2 linked regions of the Homo sapiens genome follow. The protein of the gene in region 1 purifies or fractionates together with the protein of each later gene. This does not show direct contact. Each region holds a gene or a part of one and is shown in the gene's direction. Other genes may lie near its edges.

Region 1 (2,895 bases):
GCTGAGTCAGAGCTGTCCTGTGTCCTGCTCTTTTCCAGGGCTTCGGGAGCGGGGAGAGGGTTGAATATGAGCCCCCAGACCCTCTGTCCTAGAGGAAGTTGGGGTGGCCCGGGGAATGGGGCTCTGCTTTGCTGCCCAAGACCTCGCATTGCAAGGAGAGTCTGGGTAGAGAGCCTGGGATGGCATGTGAGCCTCGCTGGCTTCCCTGGAAGGGGAAGGAGGAGAAGCTGGGGTGTCACACTGTTAAAGAAATGCTGGGTGGAGTGGCTCATGCCTGTAATCCCAGCACGTTGGGAAGCTGAAGTGGGTGGATTGCTTGAGCCCGGGAGTCCGACACCAGCCTGTGCAACACATTGAAACTCCGTCCCTACAAAAAATACAAAAATTAGCCAGGTGTGGTGCATGCTACTGGGGAGGTTGAGGTGGGAGGCCCTCTTGACCCCAGGTGGCTGAGGCTGCAGTGAGCCATAATTGTGCCACTGCACTCCAGCCTCAGCAAAAGAACTAAGACCTTGTCTCAAAAATAAAAATAAAGGCCGGGCATGGTGGCTCACGTCTGTAATCCTAGCACTTTGGGAGGCCAAAGAGGGTGGATCACCTGAGGTCATGAGTTTGAGACCAGCCTGGCCAACATGGCCAAACCCGTCTCCACTAAAAATACAAAAATTAGCCGGGCGTGGTGGCGCATGCCCATAATCCCAGCTACTTGGGAGGCTGAGGCAGGAGAATTGCTTGAACCTGGGAGGAGGAGGTTGCAGTGAGCCGAGATCACGCCACTGTACTCCAGCCTGGATGACAGAGTGAGACTCCATCTCAAAAAAAAATTATAATAACTAAAATAAATAAATAAAGCATCTATCCTTCAGCCATTTGCTAAGCAGCTGCTGTATTCCAGGCACTGTACCAGGTACCGGGAGCCCACCATGTACAAACAGCTGAGTCTAATGGGGTGGGCAGACGAGCAATCACATACTTACTACAGCATAAGCGATAAGACAGAGAGGGCTTCTCTCCAGCTCACCTGGGAGAACACTGAAAATGTACCTTGGTTGGACTTTAGAGCTGGGGATCAGGGAAGGCTTCCTGGAGGAGGTGGTGTTTAAGCTGAGTCTTGGAAACCGGATAGGAATGAAGCAGGTATCTGTGAGTTCAAGCTGTTCCCTGGCCAGGATCTCAGACACCCTCCCAAGCAGCTCCAGGAGCCTGTGAGGCCAAGGGCAGCTCTGACCAGCCATCTCTGGCCCTGGGCAGGCCTGCAGGAGTTGTTCCAGGCCCCAGACCTGCGTGGGATCTCCGAGCAGAGCCTGGTGGTGTCCGGCGTGCAGCATCAGTCCACCCTGGAGCTCAGCGAGGTCGGCGTGGAGGCGGCGGCGGCCACCAGCATTGCCATGTCCCGCATGTCCCTGTCCTCCTTCAGCGTGAACCGCCCCTTCCTCTTCTTCATCTTCGAGGACACCACAGGCCTTCCCCTCTTCGTGGGCAGCGTGAGGAACCCCAACCCCAGTGCACCGCGGGAGCTCAAGGAACAGCAGGATTCCCCGGGCAACAAGGACTTCCTCCAGAGCCTGAAAGGCTTCCCCCGCGGAGACAAGCTTTTCGGCCCTGACTTAAAACTTGTGCCCCCCATGGAGGAGGATTACCCCCAGTTTGGCAGCCCCAAGTGAGGGGCCGTGGCTGTGGCATCCAGAGTCCCTGCCTGGACCAGCCTCTCCACTCATGTGACTCTTTCCAACCGGCTTTGTGGCACTGGGGCAGGGGCCGGGGGCAGTCTGAGAGAGGCCATTCTTTCCCAACACCTCTTGGGGAGTTTAGGGTGGGGGGGGGGCGCGGCTGGGAGGAGGGCAGGCATCGGGGAGCCGGGAGCCTGACCCTCATCTTTCTTCCAAACAGGCTCAGAGGGTGTCCTGCACCGGGGCCTGGGCAGGAGGGAGGTGCTTCTAGTTCTGCCAGGAGACAGGTTAGCTGCTCCCCACGTCAGCTGGGACACCCCGACTTTTGTTTACCAGAGAAAAAGGGAGGGGGAGAGGGCTGCCTTTGGACTTGTCCCGGGACACCTAGGCTAGGGTGGGGAGAGACGGGCCCTGGTGGTGGCTCGGGAGGCGAAGCGTTGTCCTCAGCCCCGCGTGGAACTCGTGTCTGGCACAGCCTGGCTGTGGCCTAACCTGCCGAGAGTCCATCAGCCTCCATCCTACCCCCTGTGCCTTGTCACGCCAGACTTCCCACGGCTCCTCGAGATCCCAACACTGCCAGCATTTCCCTTCCTTCCTCTCCTGTCTCCCTCCTCTGCCCGGGAGCTCAGGAACCGAGGCAGGGAAGGATCCCATGAGCTCCTTAAGGCTCTTTTGTAAGGTTTTTGTAGTGATTTTTATGCCACCTGAATAAAGAATGAATGGGCCTGGCTGGTTTGATGTCACCGTTCTGGGCATGGGTGGGGACAAGTGAGGATGGTGGGGAAGGCAGGGAGGCGGCCGCAGGGTGGACTGTGCTGAGGAACCCTGGGCCCAGCAGGGGTGGCAGCCCGCGCAGTGCCACGTTTGGCCTCTGGCCGCTCGCCAGGCATCCTCCACCCCGTGGTCCCCTCTGACCTCGCCAGCCCTCCCCCGGGACACCTCCACGCCAGCCTGGCTCTGCTCCTGGCTTCTTCTTCTCTCTATGCCTCAGGCAGCCGGCAACAGGGCGGCTCAGAACAGCGCCAGCCTCCTGGTTTGGGAGAAGAACTGGCAATTAGGGAGTTTGTGGAGCTTCTAATTACACACCAGCCCCTCTGCCAGGAGCTGGTGCCCGCCAGCCGGGGGCAGGCTGCCGGGAGTACCCAGCTCCAGCTGGAGACAGTCAGTGCCTGAGGATTTGGGGGAAGCAGGTGGGGAAACCTTGGCACAGGGCTGACACCTTCCT
Region 2 (3,500 bases), on another chromosome or scaffold:
AAAAAAAAAAAAAAAGAAAGAAGAAAGAAGAAAGGAAAAAGAAAAAAAGGCAGCGGGGGCGCGGTGGCTCACGCCTGTAATCCCACCACTTTGGGAGGCCAAGGCGAGCGGATCACGAGGTCAGGAGATCGAGACCATCCTGGCTAACACGGTGAAACCCCGTCTCTACTAAAAATACAAAAATTAGCCGGGCGTGGTGGCAGGCGCCTGTAGTCCCAGCTACTCAGGAGGCTGAGACATGAGAATGGCATGAACCCGGGAGGCGGAGCTTGTAGTGAGCCGAGATCACACCACTGCACTCCAGCCTGGGCGACAGAGCGAGACTCCATCTTAAAAGAAAAAAAAAAAAAGGACATGCTACAGCATGGATGCACCTTGAAGACATTTGCAAAGTGAAACAAACCAGTCGCAAAAGAAGAAACACTGTCTCATTCCACTTCTAGGATGTATGTAGAGCAGTCAGGTTCATACAGACAGAAAGTAGCAGCGTGGCTGCTGGGGAAAAGGGGAATGGGGAGTTATTCTTTAATGGCTACAGAGTTTCAGTTAGGGGTGATGGAGAAGTTCTGGAGATGGGCGGTGGTGACGGCCGGCCGCACAGCAATATGACGTGCTTAATGCCACTGAACTGTGCACTGAACATCGTTAAGGTGGTAAATTTTGTGTTATATATATTTTGCAACAATAAAAAATATGTAGTTTCTAGAATCCTCTTCTAGATGCATGTCTGGCGTTTCTGCCGCGGGGCTGGCACTGGAGGAAGCCAGACAGGACAACATTGCGGCTTATCCTCCTCTGTTGCCATCATGGACCTCTCGCACCCCGTGATCAAGCTGTTTTTTCTCTCCTTCCAGAATTTAAGGGACGCTGTGAAGCAATCATGGATGCAATGAAGAGAGGGCTCTGCTGTGTGCTGCTGCTGTGTGGAGCAGTCTTCGTTTCGCCCAGCCAGGTTGGTGTGCAGGATCCCTGTGTCCCGCCCCTCAAGGCTGTGATGCTTCCGGAGGCTCCAGGGGTCTGTGTCCATCTGGGCCACGGAGGTTGGAATGCTGTCAGGGAGCAGAGAGGCACAGGGACGAGGGGCTGGCATTGCTGTGGAGCACACAGCACACACTCCCTTCTGTACAGCAAACTCTGTATTTGGGGGCCCAGTGTGTAGCTGGGCCCTAGGCACTTATTTTGACCTGAGTAAGCGGAATTAACATGCCACTCCCTGCCTGTGACTGCCTTTTTTTGCAGCTGTTTTTAAAGAATGTATTCAAATTAATCCATAAAGTACAGTTGTCCCTCATATCTATGGGGTATTTGTTCCAGGACCCCCAAGGATACCAAAATCCAGGGATACTCAAGTTCCTCATATAGAATGGTGTAGAGTTTGCATATCCTATGCACACCCTCCTGTATACTTTAAATCATCTCTAAATTACTTATAATACCTAGTACAATGTTAATGCTATGTAAATGGTTGTTATAAGGTATTTTTTAATTTGTGTTATTTTTATTGTTGTATTATTTATTTATATATTTTTTGGAAACAGGGTCTCACTCTGTCACCCAGGCTGGAGTGCAATGGCACAATCATAGCTCACTGCAGCACCAAACTCCTAGGCTTAAGCCTTGGCCTCCCAAAACTCTGGGGTTACAGGTGTGAGCCACAAGCCCAGCTTATATTATTATTTTTTATTTTTCTGTTTTGGTTGAATCCACAGATATGGAACCTGCAGATATACAAAGTGGACTGTATTTATAAAAGACAATGCAGGACAGGGCACAGTGACTCACACCTGTAATCTCAGCACTTTGGGAGGCCGAGGTGGGAGGATCGCTTGAGCCCAGGAGTTGGAGACCAGTCTGGGCAATATAGTGAGATGCTGTCTCTACAAAAAATTTAAAAATTAGCCGGGTGTACTAGTATGCACCTGTGGTCCCAGCTACTCAGGAGGCTGAGGCGGGAGGATCGCTTAAGTTCAGGAGGTTGGGACTTCAGTGAGATATGATTACGCCAATGCACTCCAGCCTGGGTGACAAACTGAGATCCTGTCTCAAAAAAAAAAAAAAAAAAAGAAAAAGGCAATGCAAGTGCCATGAGCCACAGCAGAGGCAAACTGCCCTCATGGTGCCTACTCTCTAGCTGAGATGGAAGCGCTACACACACTCTCTGAAAATGCCTAGCAATAAAGGGCCTCACGGAAGTCCAAACTAACCACACCTCTCCCACAGGACCCTACAGCGGGGAGAGCCAGGTGACTGCGTGGAGTAGACAGCCAGCTGCAACTCCATTGCCCAATATGGTGGCCACTTACCTTGTGCAACTGTTTAAATTTAAAATAATTAAAGTTAAAAATTGTTTCTCAGTCCCACTGGCCACATTCAAAGCACTCGGTGGCCCTGTGTGGCTTCTGTCGTGGACAGCACAGACAGAAAACATTTCCACCAAGCAGAAAGCTCTTCTGGACAGAGCCAGTCAGGAAGGAGAGGAAGAATTGGACTAGAAGGCAGGAGATGGACTTTCACTTGGGCCAGTTACCCGAGGGGGTCTCTGAGCAGAGGTATCTGGCCGGCAGGTTCACATGGGCTTCTGGGTTGGCCGCCTTTACTCTTAGTACACCTGGCATGTGCTGATCCTTCCTCCACCTCTGGTTTCTTCGCAGGAAATCCATGCCCGATTCAGAAGAGGAGCCAGATCTTACCAAGGTCGGGTGAAGCTGAGGGGTGCATGGGGTCATCAGGGAGGGAGGCAGGGCGGGGTGCAGGGTGCATCACCCACCCACCACCTGCCTTCTTCCACCCACCACCTGCCTACGGTGTGACAGTGCCATTGCAGCATGATTCTACAGAGATGCCTGTGTCGGCACCATTCTCCCATCAGCTGCGGCCACTGGGCGGGTTCTGATTCTGAGGGGAGCAGAAACAGGTGTTCCCCCCCAAGGAGCCAGGCTGTCAGGGATCACAACCTAGCGGGGGCTGGGGGGGGCGGCCACTGGCCCAAGGTCCTGGTTATACAGATCAAAAGGCAGAGCCCAGGAGAGAGCAAGTGGCTTGCCCAGGGTCACACAGCCGCCAGCAGCACGGCCAGGGCAGTCACAGCCGAGGCCAGGCCCATGCTCTGGGTCTCATCCTAGGCTGTGATCCCACCACAGTGCACCGGCAGCTTTGGTAACAACATCCCTGTGTATCCATTTCCCTCTGTTGATCCAACCGGGATGTCCCAACTGGGATGTCCCACCCAGGCAACCCCTCGACATGGTGGGGTCTCTAAGTCCACATCTAGAGTTGACTCTAGAAGGCTGAGGAATGCGAGGCCCAGCTTCAGGTCCAAAACTACCAACTTAGGCCCTCGATTTCCCTCCTTCACGACCCAGTTCCTTCGAGTCTGGAAGACTCTGCAATACCCTTTGTGAAGGTGTTAAAAAGGGTGACTCACTCCCCAGAGCGAGTCACACCTGGACTCTTAATGCCTTCGTTGTTGGATGGCATCCTGCTTCCTACCAGGTTATCCT

The links. The genes of interacting proteins can lie anywhere in the genome.
Region 2: the proteins of SERPINF2 (region 1) and PLAT purify together in Homo sapiens (affinity purification with mass spectrometry; one large-scale study listed by BioGRID and IntAct). This does not show direct contact.

Annotation. Positions count from the first base shown.
Region 1 is NC_000017.11:1,752,871-1,755,765, forward strand, and holds the end of SERPINF2 (alpha-2-antiplasmin isoform a precursor), read left to right. Parts: intron 1-1,251; coding exon 1,252-1,664; 3' UTR 1,665-2,395; downstream 2,396-2,895.
Region 2 is NC_000008.11:42,190,566-42,194,065, reverse strand, and holds part of PLAT (tissue-type plasminogen activator isoform 1 preproprotein), read left to right. Parts: intron 1-854; 5' UTR 855-880; coding exon 881-952; intron 953-2,651; coding exon 2,652-2,694; intron 2,695-3,500. UniProt on the Homo sapiens protein: Converts the abundant, but inactive, zymogen plasminogen to plasmin by hydrolyzing a single Arg-Val bond in plasminogen.